Linked DNA regions of Homo sapiens: region 1 is linked to region 2. The links come from fine-mapping of genetic effects on gene expression. Tissue or cell type: vagina. Region 2 holds a variant in brackets; the other region holds the start of a gene. All regions are shown on one strand. Distances are between the middles of the regions.

Region 1 (8,105 bases), 750 kb before region 2:
GGAGAGGCAGTTGCAGGAAGTGCCAGAGGAAGATGGGACAGTTGCCTGGGGGTAGGGGGATGCAGCTTCAGCCGACAGCGCCGCCCTTTAACCCCTCAAAAATGACCAACCAATCATAAGACTGAAAAGCACCCAAAAACTGACCAGGAAGGAACATGCCCAAGGATAACCTCCAAACTAACAGACGAGATCACCTTACCCAGTGAGACCAGGTTGCTGTAGGTCTCCAACATCACGTCTCTGTACAAATCCCTCTGAGCAGGTGCCAACCACTGCCATTCTTCTTGGGAGAAGACTATGGCCACATCCCTGAACAATTCTGACCCCTGGAATGACAGGCATGTATGATATATATGTATTTCAATGGTTCACAGTGGGATGAAAGGAGATGGGGCAGGTCTTTGCGGGAGGGGGGGTTGTTTTGTTGAACAAGAAGGGTGGGACTGAATGTGAAAGGTGACAGAAGAAATGGGGATGAGTAAAACAGAATGATCAAATTGTTCTCAAACATTCCTTTTAACTGCAAATCAATGCTCTGTGTACAGGTCTGGGATGAAAATTAAAATCAAGCTAAATGGAGTTTTCCTTATTGTTAAGAAACAGTGTAATAAAGCACACTGCCCACTCTATACTTGGCATACAATAAATTCTCAAGGTGAGACCTATCACTTCTATCTTTTGGAATAACAATAACAACAAAAAATATTTCTGATGGATTTTCCCCAAATATTTTATTTTTTAAAATTATGGAAACATGTTTTCTATCTTAGATACAGGATTTTCATGTAAGTCAAGAATTTCTTGGAGATGAAAGTTCATCATTATGTTGGAACATAACACAAGCATTTTTCTTCATGGGAAAAACCATGGAGATAACTTTTATTGAGTGCACAATTTTCTATCAAGTGAAACAACTGACTCAAACATCCTCTTATTTTGGATCCCGAGGTTGGATCAGATCTCTAAGGCTTTTCCAAGCCCTGACCACTCACCCACCTAGATGATCATCTCACTTGCTACATCGCTCACCATCCTCAGCTCTGTACTTTTCTTCCTCTTAAGCTAAAGAAACTAATGGAGGATGTCCCAGATTCAAATGCTCTGTCCAACGTCAAACTAGACTTTAATTCTGGCATCAAATTTTTGATGGATTCCCAGCCAAACCTCAATTACATATCCAATCATTAATCATTCCCAAAGCAGGACACTGTACCATGCGCTGAAACTGAAACCAACCAACACCACCTCCCCTGCTTTTCTATATGTGATTGCTCCTAAGCATTCATTCCATCTCTTCAAACTTCAGTTCTTACAAAGGATGCTCTCATTTCATACAGGGAAATGAGTTTCTCCTCCTAGCAGACGAAAACCATCAGGAGATGCAGAATGCTATAGAGAATAAATCTGTGGGCATTTGTCAGAGGGGAGAGGACAATGGGAGAGGAGACTCCTGCCTGGTCCTTTTATTCCCTAAAATGGGAAAGTCTGAGAACCAAATTTCTGGATGGAACCCAGGTGGAAAGTTTCAAGATAAGGAAAGCAAATATTTATGGGATTTAAAAACTCACAAGGGACATGACTTTTAGAATTTCAAGGGCTGATAGGTCCTCCTTCTGGTTCCTCTCTTGGGGAAGGGCAGAGTCCTGCGACGGTAGAGCTGGGGGAGGAAAGAGCAAACATGAGAGGCTAGGCTTGCCTCACAGTTCCTAGAATGCCAAGTTACAAGTCCCCACCTGCTTGCCCTCTGCCCACCAAGAAAATGAGAAGGAGGGGGAGGCAAAGGGATCCTCACCCAACCCCAGGAAACCAGCTTTAGCTGCTGCAAGGCAAAGGGGAACCAGTGGTCCTTTCCCTCCCATTTCCCCTAAACATCCAGTGGTTCTGTTTTGCTGCAAATGCAAGTCTAAGACAGGGATGCTGAGGGCTGTTCTAGTGACTGAGACCCACATGTTACCTCAAGGACAAGGAGGGCTTCCCTCAAGCCAGGGAGCATAGAAGGCCTGCATCATTTGCATAGCCCCAGCCTAGAATAAAGCCTTTCCAGGACTAGGCCATTTAACTCTCTCCTGCAGCAAATATAACACCTTTGAAAGTCTACCTGGCTCTTTTCCCAACCGCCAAATATACAAAAAGCTCTACAGCCCAAACTGAGGCTTTGTGCATGCCACTTCATGGAGCATGCCTTGCATCAACAAATGGGATAGAGTTGGAAGGAACAGTAAGAGACAAATTACACACAGCACGCCCAGTGCTCCATTATCAGCACATAAATGTGTCCTTCCATAGAGACACAGCAGTGCACAAAGCTGCATGTCCAATAATATTTGCTAAATAGGAGAACTGAAAATTAGTACGTAAGTAGGCAAGTCCACAAGTAGCCAAGAGGTTGAATCATTTTTGGCACAGCCATATAATGGGATGCCAAGTGACTATCAAAAATGACTATCAAAAACTGACAAGCAAAGATATTAACTACTGAATCCTTTGAGAACATTCAGCAAAAAGAAGTCAAACTCACTAACACACAGGCTAAAAACAAAACAAAACAAAAAAATTGGAAGAAAAAACACCCAAGTATTCGCAGTGTTGTCATTTAACCAGTTCTTGAGCTCACTGTTAAACAAGAAGTACTCTGTAAAGGAGTATATAAGGTGCCTACTGCATTACAAACATTTGGTTCTAAGTAACGTGTAAGTGAAATAATTATGAATGTTGCTTAATATGATGTAATAGGCAGCTTTTCCTTATTATGACCACTTTTATAAGCATTATTTGTATTAACTGCACGATATCCTATTTACAAAGGATGGCCTGTGATCCACTCAAGTGTTTCCCCATTGCTGGACATAGAATTTGAACATATAAAATGTTCCCAAGTATAAGTTTTTCTAAACTAGCGGTTCTAAGTCTTCTGGGGTCTTGTAACTCTCTGAGAACCTCATGAAACAAGATTTCCTCTCAGATTAAAAAAAAAAAAAGGCACGCATAACAGTGAATGCAAAACATCCGCAATTTCAGGGGGTCGGAGACCCCTGCGCACCCACCTAAGGGGTCCATGCACCTGGGCTATGAGGCTGGAAGCAGAAAGGGGGCGCCAGAAAGCGCACGCCGCGAGGGCCGGCGGGAAATGTAGTCTCACGCCGGTAAAGCCACAGAGCGACGATGAGGCGAGACGTCTGCGTTCTTCTCAGGCCTGAGACCCAACCGGCCCGGGCACCAGCTCCTGCTGGACCCCAGAGCGCCTGGAAAGCTCCGGAACCTCTCACCTGCCGCCTCCTCGGGTCCAAGTGCCACCGCGGCCGCGCCCCCGGCAGCCCAGGGCGCGCTTCCACCACGGTACCGGTGGATTCGCCGTGCGCAGCCGGAAGATGGCGCAGACGCACAAAGCACACCGATGCTGCGCCATGATAGGGCCGGCGCCGCAGTGTCTTCCGGGAAACATAGTCTTTAGGCGTAAAGGCAGCAGCCCGGCCTTGAAGCCGGATCTCGCGATGTTTCAGGGTGAGCCGGACGCAGGCGTGCCTGCGCAGTGCGCGGAGGAGTGCTGTTCGTGTGTTCGAGTCCCTGGGTTGCTTCCTGGGGTCTGTGGTGCTGGGTGTGCTATCTGCGTGTGATTCTCTAGCGAGAGATTGTGGGCGAGTGACCGAGTGGGCAAGGGGCCGTCACTGTGTGTGCGTGATTTTGACAGTGTGTGGTGGTAGCTTCTGACTCCGCGTGGGTCGTTGAATGTATGACTGGGACCGTTTAGCGGTGGATACACAACTGTGTGCGGCTGTGGAAGATTGCCTCATCCGTTACGTTCCCATTTCCGTGGAACAACAGTTTTACCAGAAGGTTTCGAAGGAACCTTAAAGTTTGGAAGCGTAAGAGTTTATCTGGTAACTAATTTTAAACATTACATCTATGGTGAGTTAAATGTGGGTTATGAAGGAGAACGCAAAATAAAAACGTTATAAAGATGTAAAGGAGTTTTATGGGGCGGCATCTCTTGGGCAAATATCAGACCGCCGTAGGTAGTTGTTAATTCTCTCTTGTTTTTAGGCGGCTTTGGTGTCATCAAATGTGAGAAGCCCTGGACTTTACACATCCCGAGCCAGTGTGATCCAGTATGATTGGGAGTCCGAGTGCCAGATGCCGGTCAGGACCTGTTATGCTGGGTCTCAGAATGCGGAAACTCTCCCTGTCCGAGGTGGAACAGTTTGTCCTTGAGTGAGGACTGGAGTCCTGAGTGACTCTTTTGATTTGATCCTGTTTCCCTCAAACCTGGTGAGCTCTATGGTGTAATAAATGGTTAAGAGTGTGAACCCTTAACCATCTCTAAGACTGGAGCCAGAATGCCTGAACTCCAGTCTTAGAGATGTGCCTCGGTCTCCACATTTGAAAGTGAGGATGATTGTGGCATCTAATTCATTGAGTTGTTGGGGAGGAGTAACTGATATGTAAAATAATGCTACTGCTGCTGGATAAGGATGCTAATATGACTGAAGCTAATGCTTTCTTTCTGCAAAGATGCTTTTTCCAAAACACACCATATTGCCTCTTTACACATTCTTCAGGAGAGGGTAGAGGCTGCATTTTCCTTGTAGGTGCGGTGATGTGGTGGAAAGCACACTTTTAGAATTAGACAGATGTGGATTCAAATAGCATTTCAGCCATTTATTAGTTTCTTCGTGCCTATCTCGGTTTTGTTTTGTTTTTTTTTTTTTGTCCATAAAAGGAAGAATGTAATGCTGGGCTTGCAGCTTTGTCCTGAGGGTCAAATAAAATGATTTAATAATATAAGCAAAGCTCAGAGGTTGGTTATTGCTGATTACTGATATTAAAAGACAACTTCAGCAAGGATGGTTGAATTTCACACTTGTGAGCGGACAGTTGAGGAGACAGTTGTAGATTTATCCTACTTGACCTTATTTGTGGTTCAAGACAGTGTTGCGAGTTCAAGAGGAGAGGGTAGATGCAAAAAGTCATCATCTTTCCTATGTTCTCTGATCTTGGGAAGGGGCGAGTGGCTCTAGTTTCCCTTTAACATCCCACTGTGTTGAGTGTGTCTATATGTACATGCGTCAGTATTTGCTTATGGAGGAAAGGAAGGAAAAAGACCAAACAGGTACAAAGCCAGCCATCTCTCAGGCTAACTTTCTTCTATACCATTTTTACTTTCTCACATTCATTAATCTGCCAAAGAGAAATTTAGAGGATGATGAAATGGCCACTTCTGACTCTGAACCAAGCCTCTGAAGTCATACACCATTATACTCTTGGTCACAAAATCAGCTGTGAGTCTAAGTAGGTGGAGGCTACACAAGAGTATAAGTACTAGGAGGCAGGGATCATTCAGGGTCGTCTTAGAGGGTGGCTTCCAGTTTCTTCCTTTTAAGAGTATGAGAATGCTCTGAGCTAGCCTCTCCATTCCATGGAATCCATAGGTCTTTTGTCAGCCACTTCCCAGTACACATTCCTGTGCCAAAGCACATGCAGAGTTTGTAGGGTCCAGCCCCACAGGGTCGGTTGGTTTCTCCCCGTGTGCGGAGACGAGAGATTGTAGAAATAAAGACGCAAGACAGAGATAAAAGAAAAGACAGCTGGGCCCAGGGGACCACTACCACCAAGACGCGGAGACTGGTAGTGGCCCCGAATGCCAGGCTGCGCTGATATTTATTGGATACAAGACAAAGGGGCAGGATAAGGAGTGTGAGCCATCTCCAATGATAGGTAAGGCCACATGGGTCACATGTCCACTGGACAGGGGGCCCTTTCCTGCCTGGCAGCCGAGGCAGAGAGAGAGAGGAGAAAGAGAGAGAGAGCTTACACCATTATTTCTACTTATTAGAGACTTAGTACTTTCACTGGTTTGCTACTGCTAACTAAACGGCAGAGCCAGGTGTACAGGATGGAACATGAAGGTGGACTAGGAGCGTGACCACTGAAGCACAGCATCACAGGGAGACGGTTAGGCCTCCGGATAACTGCAGGTGGGCCTGAGGCCCTCCACAAGTGGTGGAGGAGTAGAGTCTTCTCTAAACTCCCCCGGGGAAAGGGAGACTCCCTTTCCCGGTCCGCTACGTAGCAGGTGTTTTTCCTTGACACTAACACTACTGCTAGACCACGGTCCGCTTGGCAACGGGCATCTTCCCAGATGCTGGCATCACCGCTAGACCAAGGAGCCCTCTGGTGGCCCTGTCTGGGCATAACAGAAGGCTCGCACTCTTGTCTTCTGGTCACTTCTCACTATGTCTCCTCAGCTCCTATCTCTATATGGCCTGGCTTTTCCCAGGTTATGATTATAGAGTGAGGATTATTATAATTTGGAATAAAGAGTAATTGCTACCAACTAATGATTAATGATATTCATATATAATCATATCTAAGATCTATATCTGGTATAACTATTCTTGTTTTATATTTTATTATACTGGAACAGCTCGTGTCCTCGGTCTCTTGCCTTGGCACCTGGGTGGCTTGCCGCCCACAGAGTTACTCCAGCAGCTCCCTCTCCTGTTATCCCCAGCCATATCCGTGCTTCTGCCAGATTCCTTCTGTTTCAGGATCACCCATTATCACTTGAATGAGATCAACTGTGGGGAGGTGGGCCATATTCTGTTGTGCATAGTAATCCAAGCAAGGAATCACACAACAAAGTGGGTTCTAACCCAATCTTAGCTACTTACTCCCTGAGTGACCTTGGGCACCTCCCCCAATTTTTCTGACCTAAAATCTGTGCATTATAATAATAATAAATTTCCACGGAGGAAGTATAACCTTTTCAACAAACAGTGCTGGAGCAACTGGACATCCATAGCCAAAAAAGAAAAAGGATAAAAGGCTTTTCTGCAGTACTAATCCAGGAGAAAAATAAATGTATTGCATCTTCCTTGTGACAACTGAGGACAAAATACATGTGGCCTCTCTCTGAGGACTTTTTTTTTTAAGAGACAAGGTCTCACTCTGTCACCCAAGCTGGTGTGCAGTGGTGTTCCTGGACTGAACTGAAGGTCAGGCTGCTTATTCTCGCAGCCCTATAACAAGATGCTGATGAACTGTGAAAGAAGAGAGTTTTATTTCTGTAACCGGGTACAGGGAGAGGGCCAGAAAAATATTGCCAGACCAACTCAAAATTACAAAGTTTTCCAGTGCTTATCTACCTTCTAAGCTATATGTCTACATGTTAGTGTGCATTCATCTAAAGACACAAGTGATTAATTTCTTCTAATCTATAACTAAGGTCTGAGTTATAGACCTTGGGGACATTCCTCTGGAGCCTCAGTGATTTTACTTACTCTAGATGGGTCCAAGTGCCAAAGGTAATTACCTTATCTTGTCTCCTACTAAGTTATGGAGGTCTGGAGAGTTCCTTTAGACCCCCAATAAAACTTGTTTAATCCTAAATGGATCCTGGTATGAGGAGTGTGACCATTCCTTCATTATTTTGTCATGCTTCAAATCATCAGCCTTTGTGTTAGGGCGCTGGCTCTCTCAGCCTTTAATATTTAACCTAACCATTTAGTCAATGCTAGAACAGTTCTTATGGAGGCCTGCCTGTTCAGTTTTTGTGAGATCTGGCTTGCCACAGTGGCACAAACGGCTTACTGCAGCCTCAACTTCCTGGGCTTAAGCGATCCTCCTACCTCAGCCTCCCAAGTAGCTGAGAACACAGGTGCGTACCACCACACCAGCTAATTTTTCTTTTCTTTTTTTTTTTCTGTAGAGATGGGAGCCTCACTGTATTGCCCAGGCTGGTCTTGAACTCCGGAGCTCAAGTGATCGTCTTGCTTCAGCCTTGCAAAATGATGGTGAAGCTGCATCATTGTCTGGGGTAAATACCTGAGGTTCGTTGTCTCACGCCAAGGGAATCAAGGACGTGGACACACAAGAAGTGAGTTTAAGAGCGGAGGTTTAATAGGCGAAAGAGAAAAGAGAATAGCTCTAGCTCCTGCAGAGAGAAAAGGGCTCCCAAGTAGGACTTCCAGTCCGTGGCGAAGGGCACGGGGTTTATAGACTGGCTTCAGGAGGTGGTGTCTGATTTACGTAGGCCCCAAAGATTGGTTGGACCAGGTGTGCCAATCAGAAGCTGGCTGCCCCACCCTAATCTTTTATTATGCAGATGG
Region 2 (8,105 bases):
GGGTATGTGCCATTGGTTGGGGGGAGTTGTGTGGATGGATGGTTTGAGGGAATGCACCTGAGCAGTCGAACTAAACAAAGAATGCTTTTTCTGGGCTGGGTGTGGCGGCTCATGCCTGTAATCCCAGCACTTTGGGAGGCCGAGATAGGAGAATTGCTAGAGCACAGGAATTTGAGACCAACATGTTACATGTAACATGAAGATAGCAAGACCCAGTCTCTACAAAACCAAAGCCACGTGTGGTGGTGCACGTCTGTGGTCCCAGCTATTCAGGAGGCTGAGGTGGGAGGATGGCTTGAGCCCAGGTCAATGTTGCAGTGACGCCAGGCGTGGTGGTTCATGCCTGTAATACCAGAACTTTGGGAGGCTGAGGCGGGCCGGTTATCTGAGGTCAGGAGTTCAAGACTAGCCTCACCAACATGGAGAAACCCCATCTGTGCAAAAAATACAAAAATTAGCCAGGCATGGTGGTGCACGTCTGTAATCCCAGCTACTCGGGAGGCTAAGGCAGGAAAATCACTGGAACCTGGGAGGCGGAGGTTGCAGTGAGCCGAGATCACACCACTGCACTCCAGCCTGGGTGACAGAGCGAGACTGTCTCCAAAAAAAAAAAATACTACAGTGAGCTATGATTGCACCACTGCACTCCAGCCTCGGTGACACAGCCAGACCCTGTTAGGAGAAAGGAGATAAAGAAAGAGAGAGGAATGGAGAGAGGGAGGGAGGGAGAAAGGAAGGAAGGAAGGAAGGAAGGAAGGAAAGAAGGAAGGAAGGAAGGAAAGAAGGAAGGAAAGAAGGAAGGAAGGAAGGAAAGAAGGAAGGAAGGAAGGAAGGAAGGAAAGAAGGAAGGAAGGAAGGAAAGAAGGAAGGAAAGAAGGAAGGAAGGAAGGAAAGAAGGAAGGAAGGAAGGAAAGAAGGAAGGAAAGAAGGAAGGAAGGAAGGAAAGAAGGAAGGAAGGAAGGAAGGAAAGAAGGGAGGTAGGAAGGGAGGAAGGGAAGGAGGCAGGGAGGGAGGGAGGGAGGGAGGGAGGGAAGGAAGGGAAAGAAAGAAATGCTTTTTCTTCTTGGAGGATAAAGCTTTTCCAAAAATCAAGACCAGGAGTAGGGTGAAGGGCAGGGCACCCAGCCCACAAAACTTACAGAGGCCCTCACTCATTCTCCCGGCACTTGCCGACCCTGAGAATGGGGGCTCCTTCAATACAGCACTTGGTACACTTCACTTGCCTCACCCTAGTCCCGGCTCTACAAAAACATATGCGAAGTGAGGAGCACCTCTGTGCCAACCCTATTTGGCCAGCCATGGGGTGTCTGTGTGTTTCACGCCTTAGGTTTTGAGTCCCCCTGCCCGGGAAGCCGTCCTTACCCACAGAGACAAGGTTGCTGTAATTCTCCAGCATCACATCCCTGTACAAGTTTCTCTGTTCGGGATTCAGCCGCTGCCACTCCCCCTGGGTGAAGTTCACAGTGACATCCTCGAAGGTCACTCTTCCCTGTAACAACAGATTCCCGATCAGTATAAAAATGCCATTGAATCCTGCGGCTGAGGATACAGAAACTTGTTTCTGCTGAACCAAGCTTTAATCATGTCCATAATTCACTCTACTCTGGATGAAAATAAATTGTGCCCAGAGGATCTTGCCAATGAGCCATAAACCTTAGACCTACTCATGACACTGCCATCTTTCTCCACCCTCTAGTCCCACCAATTTTACTTCCTGAATCTCAAACCCAGCCATTAGTTTCCATCTTCTCCACCATTCATAAATCCACCTTGTCATCTTTTACTTAGAGTAAGGCAGAGGCCGAGTATGGTGGCTCACACCTATCATCCCAACATTTTGGGAGGCCGAGGCAGGAGGATTGCTTGAGGCCAGGAGTTTGAGGCTAGCTGGGGAACATAGCAAAACCCCTATCTCAAAGAACATTTTATTATTTTGGCCGGGCACGGTGGCTCACACCTGTAATCCCTGCACTTTGGGAGGCCGAGGCGGGTGGATCACCTGAGGTCAGGAGTTCGAGACCAGTCTGGCCAACATGAAGAAACCCCATCTCTACTAAAAATACAAAAAATTAGCCAGGCATGGTGGCAGGCGCCTGTAATCCCAGCTACTCAGGAGGCTGAGGCAGGAGAATCACTTGAACCCAGGAGGTGGAGGCTGCAGTGAGCCAAGATTGCGCCACTGCACTCCAGCCAGGGCAACAAGAGCAAAACTCTGTCTCAAGAAAAAAAAGAAAAAGAAAAAGAAAAGAAAAGAAAATGTTATTATATTTTTTTTCTATTTTCCATTTTTCTTTAAGACATCCTGCCTCTATTAGAAATTCTTTTTTAAATAGAGGCCTGGCATGGTGGCTCACACCTATAATCCCAGCACTTCAGGAGGCTGAGACAGGTGGATCACCCGGGGTCAGGAGTTCGAGACCAGCCTCGTCAACATGGTGAAACCCCATCTCTACTAAAAATACAAAAATTAGCCAGGTGTCGTGGTGCGCGCCTGTAATCCCAGCTACTCAGGAGGCTGAGGCAGGAGAATCGCTTGAACCCTGGGAGGTGGAGGTTGCAGTGAGCTGAGATCACACCACTGCACTCCAGCCTGGGTGACAGTGAGACTCCATCTCAAATAAATAAATACATAAATAAGTAGAATAAGCCAATAGCCCCCTAATTCTTCCAGCTACATCTAAACTGACTGTAATCTATTTTCCACAGTCGACATTCAGACTGGATGGTGCGCTCCCCTAATTTATCAGCTTTCCTTGCATTTGGGAGAAACAGGTGACACCTGTTACAGGGGCCAGCGTCTGGCATGTCTACCACACTCCCACTCACACAGGGTCACACAGCACTCCCCTGGGTCTCTCCTGCAGCCATACTGGACTTACGGCAGCATTTTGCCCCTGCCACTCAACACTCACAGTGTTGGAAGTCACACTTGTAAAGCGAATTCCTTTGTCAGAAACTGAAAATCTCACCTCTAAGAGCCAGCACCTAGTGTCCTCTTGGACAGATAAATTTTTTAGTTGTGTTTGTGCTCTAGCTCGCTTTTTTAAAATTTTGTTTATTTATTAATTTTTTTTGGCGGGGAAGGGGACAGAGGCTCACTCTGGTAGCCCAGGCTGGAGTGCAGTGGCACAATCTCGGCTCACTGCAACCTCCACCTCCTGGGTTCAAGCGATTCTCCTGCCTCAGCCTCCTGAGCAGCTGGGATTACAGGCGCGCACCACGACACCTGGCTAATTTTTGTACTTTTAGTAGAGACGGGTTTCACCATGTTGGCCAGGTTGGTCTCAAACTCCTGACCTCAAGTGATCTGCCCGCATCGGCCTCCCGAAGAGCTGGGATTAAAGGGATGAGCCACCGCACCCGGCCTTTTTTTTTAAATTTTTGACACAGGTTCTTGCTCTGCCACCCAGGCTGGAGTACAGTGGCATGATCATGGCTCACTGCAGCCTCAACCTCCCAGGATCAAGCAATCCTCCTACCTCAGCCTCCAGAATAGCTGGGACTACAGGCATGCACCACCATGCTAAGCTCATTTTTTATTATTTGTAGACAGGGTCTCACTATATTGTCCAGGCTGGTCTTGAACTCCTGGCCTCAAGTGGTCTTCC[T/C]GCCTTCGCCTCCCAAAGTGCTGGGATTACAGGTGTGAGCCACCACACCCAGCCTTAGTATGCCTTTCCTGTCAACAGGAAATTGGTCAACAGGCTTAATTTTAACAATTGCAAAGAAACTACTATCTGCCTAACTGCATACAACTTATCCTTGGTCTTTCAGCTATCCATAATTTACTTTGATTCCGACTGGTACTAGTTAATGATTTTTCAGTTTATTGTGTGGATTTACAGAATTTGTTTCAAATACACACCGAACAAAGTTGGGAGAGGACACACATTCAAGACACCAATCATTTAAAAAATAGGTTGGGGTGAAACACACATGACACTGTTACATCTCAGGGCTTAGCAGTGGACCAGGTTTGTAAGAGCAATGGTCAAAAGATGCTTGAGGCTGGGCGTGGTGGCTCACCCTTGTAATCCCAGAACTTTGGGAGGCTGAGGCGGGTGGATCACCTGAGGTCAGGAGTTCGAGACCAGCCCGACCAATATGGTAAAACCCCATCTCTACTAAAAATACAAAAATTAGCCGGGCGTGGGCGTGGTGGCGTGCGCCTGTAATCCCAGCTGCTCAGGAGGTTGAGGCAGGAGAATCGCTTGAACCTGGGAGGTGGAGGTTGCAGTGAGCCAAGATCAAGCCATTGCACTCCAGCCTGGGTGGCAGAGGGAGACTGTCTCAAAAAAAAAAAAAAAAAAAAAAACAACAAAACAAAGATGCTTGAGCTGAAACCAGCCCAGTAATCCCATAGACAGTTGTGGGTTTTTTGTTTTTTGTTTTTGTTTTTGTTTTTGTTTTTTGGATAAACATAGAAATTGACCCTTCCGCTGTTAAAGCTTGAAACCTGTATTTGTTTTGTCTGAGTTCCTTCCTCAGGAAAAGACCTTCAGATCTCTCAAAGGCAGGCAGATCACCTGAGGTCAAGATTTCGAGGCCAGCCTGGCCAACATGGTGAAGCCCCGTCTCTACCAAAAAATACAAAAATTAGCCAGGAGTGGTGGTGCGCACACCTGTAATCCCAGCAACTCAGGAGGCTGAGGAAGGAGAATCGCTTGAACCTGGGAGGCAGAGGTTGCAGTGAGCTGAGATTGCACCACTATACTCCAGCCTGGGTGACACAGCGAGACTCCCTCAAAAAAAAAAAATCAACTGAAACTCACCACAACTGAAACTCACCACAACAGATGTCTCCTTGCCCCCTCCCTAGTCTTGCTTTCTTACACATTGTTATATTTCTTCCATGCTGTATAAACCCCTAGTTTTAGTGAGTTAGGGAGATGGATTTGAGGCTGAGCTCCCATTTCTTCACCTACGGCAGCTGATTAAAGCTTCTTCCTTGGCAATACCCATTGTCTCAGTCATTGGCTTTCTGTGCAGCCAGTAGCAGGACCTAGACCAAACTCCTGGTGTTTCCGTAACCAAGCTTTTTTTTTTTTTTTTTTTGAGACAGGGTCATGCTCTGTCACCCAGGCTGGAGTGCAGTGGCACAATCATGGCTCACTGCAGCCTCAACCTCCCAGGTTCAAGCGATTCTCCCACCTCCGCCTCCAGAGTAGCTGAGACTACAGGTGTACGCCACCACCACCACACCCAGCTAATTTTTTGTAGAGACGGGATCTCGCCATGTTGCCCAGGCTGGTTTCAAACTCCTGAACTCAAGCGATCCGCCTGCCTTGGCCTCCTAGATTGCTGAATTACAGGTGTGAGCCACCATGCCCAGCCTTGAGCTTTACTTGAAATGTTTCAGCTTTAATAGGAAAGCAGAAAGTAGAGTGTGTGTTACCTTTTAATAGAAGTATGGAAGGAAGGAGGAAAATATGCCAAAAGGTTAGCACAGTTAATTCTGAGCAAGAGGAACGTGGGTCATACGTTTATTCATTATGAGATTTAGATTTTTTTGAAAAGCTCACCTGGGAATTGTTCATTTCCTGTTCTTCACCAGTCAGTAAAGTCTTGGGAAGGCAGATCTGAGGGAAAATGGAAAAGAACCATGAAATAGCAGAATTCGCTTTGGAAGTTGGGGATCATCCAGCATAGAATGCTCCACACCCTGGATAAAAGCTCTCCCTAACCCACTCAGAAAAGCCCTGACTTGTACCTCAGTGATCCCCTTCTGAAGGTCTTTTTTTTTTTTGTTTTGGTTTTTTTGTGTTTGTTTATTTATTGAGACTGGGTCTCAAAGAAGAAAGTGCAAGCCAGGCACGGTGGCTCACGCCTGTAATCCCAGCACTTTGGGAGGCTGAAGCAGGCAGATCACCAGAGGTCAGGAGTTCGAGACCAGCCTGTCCAACATGGTGAAACCCCGTCTCTACTAAAAATACAAAATTGGCTGGGCGCGGTGACTCATGCCTGTAATGCCAGCACTTTGGGAGGCCGAGGCAGGCGGATCACGAGGTCAGGAGATCAAGACCATCCTGGCCAACACGGTGAAACCCTGTCTCTACTAAAAATACAAAAACAAAATTAGCCAGGCGTGGTGGCGGGCGCCTGTAGTCCCAGCTACTCGGGAGGCTGAGGCAGGAGAATGGCGGGAACCCGGGAGGCGGAGCTTGCAGTGAGCCGAGATCGCGCCACCGCACTCCAGCCTGGGCGACAGAGCGAGACTCCGTCCCAAAAAAAAAAAAAAAGAGAGAGAGAGAAAGCTAAACAGCAGTTCAACAGCACCTTTAAAACAAGCCTGTGCAAAGACAATGAGGCAAGCATCAGATCAGCTAGAGCACAGTAAGGAAGGCCGAGAGCAGAAACCATGAATCCTGAAGCAGCTGTGGTCGTGACGAATAACGCCGCAGTGAACATGGGATGCAGATAGCCCTTCAGCTTTGCCATAAGCGGGACAGCTGGATCATTGGTAATTCTTTGCCAAAAGCGTAGATTTTGGCCACGCGTGGCAGCTCACACCTATAATCCCAGCACTTTGGAAAGCCAAGGTGGGAGGATCAGTTGAGCCCAGGAGTTACTTTTTTTTTTTTTTTTTTAAGACCAAGTCTTGCTCTGTCGCCCAGGCTGGAGTGCAGTGGCACAGTCTCGGCTCACTGCAACCTCTGCCTCCCGGGTTCAAGGGATTCCCCTGCCTCAGCCTCCCGTGTAGCTGGGATTACAGGCATGCACCACCATGCCCAGCTAATTTTTGCATTTTTAGTAGAGACAAGGTTTTACCATGTTGTTCAGGCTGGTCTCGAGCTGCTGATCTCAAGTGATCCGCCGGCCTCAGCCTCCCAAAGTGCTGGGATTATAGGCGTGAACCACCACATCCAGCCAAGCCCAGGAGTTTGAGACCAGCCTGTGCAACATAGTGAAACCTCTGTCTCAATGTTTAAGTAATAAAGTTTTTATTTTTTATTTTATTTTATTGAGGCAGGGTCTCATTCTGTCACCCAGGCTGGAGTGCAGTGATGTGATCCCGGCTCACAGCAGTTTAAAAATCCCTGGCTCAAGCAATCCTCCTACCTTGGCCTCCTGAATAGTTAAGACTATGGGTGCATGCTACCACATCAGCTAACTTTTTATTTTTTGTAAAGAAGGGATCTTGCTATGTCACCTAAACTGGTCTCAAACTCCTAGGCTCAAGCAATCCTCCTCCCTCAGCCTCCCCAAATCCTGGGATTACATGCATGAGCCACCACACCAGCCAGGAATAAAGTTTTAAATAAGTAAATATGTTTTTAAAAAGAATAAACTTGCCGGGCACAACTTTAATGTTTATTAAAGTTTGAGGAGTCCAATTCTAGCACAAAAAATATATATAATTTTAAAAAACAGTAAATTGTAAATGCTTTCACCACAAAAATAGATTAATTAGCTTGATTTAATCATCCCCCCAATGTAAACATGTATCAAAACATCACATTGTACCCCATAAATAAACACAATTATTATTTGTCAATAAAAAGTTTTTAGAAGTAGCTGTGGGCCAGCAGTAATGCTAAGGACTGGAGGGCCACGAAAATAATTTTGAGTGTCCTGGGAGCATCACTTTTCAATATGACAACTAAAAAAAAAATCTAAACTACCAATGTAAAATATTTAGCTTATTCCAGCAAATAGGAGAGGTAGAAAAATGAAACTAAGTAAAAATGCAAAACAAACAAACAAACAAAACCCAGACATTTGGTTTTCAGGGAGAAAAAAAAATCAGCTTACCTCCAGTGGAATCTGGCATAAATTAGCAAGTTGATTGATTTCTGATGCCTGTGGTCTTTTCTTCTGAAAGGGACTGAAAATGAAAAGGCGTGTATACTGAAAAGCTACACTAATGACTAAAACTTAATCGGCCCTCTACCCGCTGTATTCCGCATCATAATCCAGTCAAGAAACAACCCAAAACACTCACTTCCTATCAAAAGCCCCACCTGATCCTATCAGGCCACATCAAAATTTCAATTCCCAATTCTTTCCTCGACTTCTCCAAAACTGAATGAACTCTCATAAAAATTGTGATTGTGAAAGCTTAATTTTCAAATCTGCCCAATCAGTTTCCAATGGAATTTTTTTTAAGT

Evidence for each region. PIP is the estimated chance that this variant, and not a neighbour inherited with it, causes the effect.
Region 1: ZNF582-DT starts here. The variant in region 2 is fine-mapped to the expression of ZNF582-DT in vagina (GTEx, PIP 0.92).

The regions. Positions count from the first base shown.
Region 1 is chr19:56,390,176-56,398,280 of GRCh38, forward strand. It overlaps ZNF582-DT (ZNF582 divergent transcript), which reads left to right and starts at 3,501. Exons shown (of 2, transcript NR_037160.1): 1 at 3,501-3,878; 2 at 7,706-8,105. It overlaps ZNF582 (zinc finger protein 582), which reads right to left and starts at 3,359. Exons shown (of 5, transcript NM_001320371.4): 1 at 3,045-3,359; 2 at 1,569-1,657; 3 at 200-326. The coding sequence starts at 1,577.
Region 2 is chr19:57,137,110-57,145,214 of GRCh38, forward strand. ZIM3 (zinc finger imprinted 3) reads right to left here and starts at 8,093. Exons shown (of 5, transcript NM_052882.1): 1 at 7,750-8,093; 2 at 5,520-5,576; 3 at 1,363-1,489. The coding sequence starts at 5,534. The variant T/C (reference allele first, on the strand shown) is at 3,609.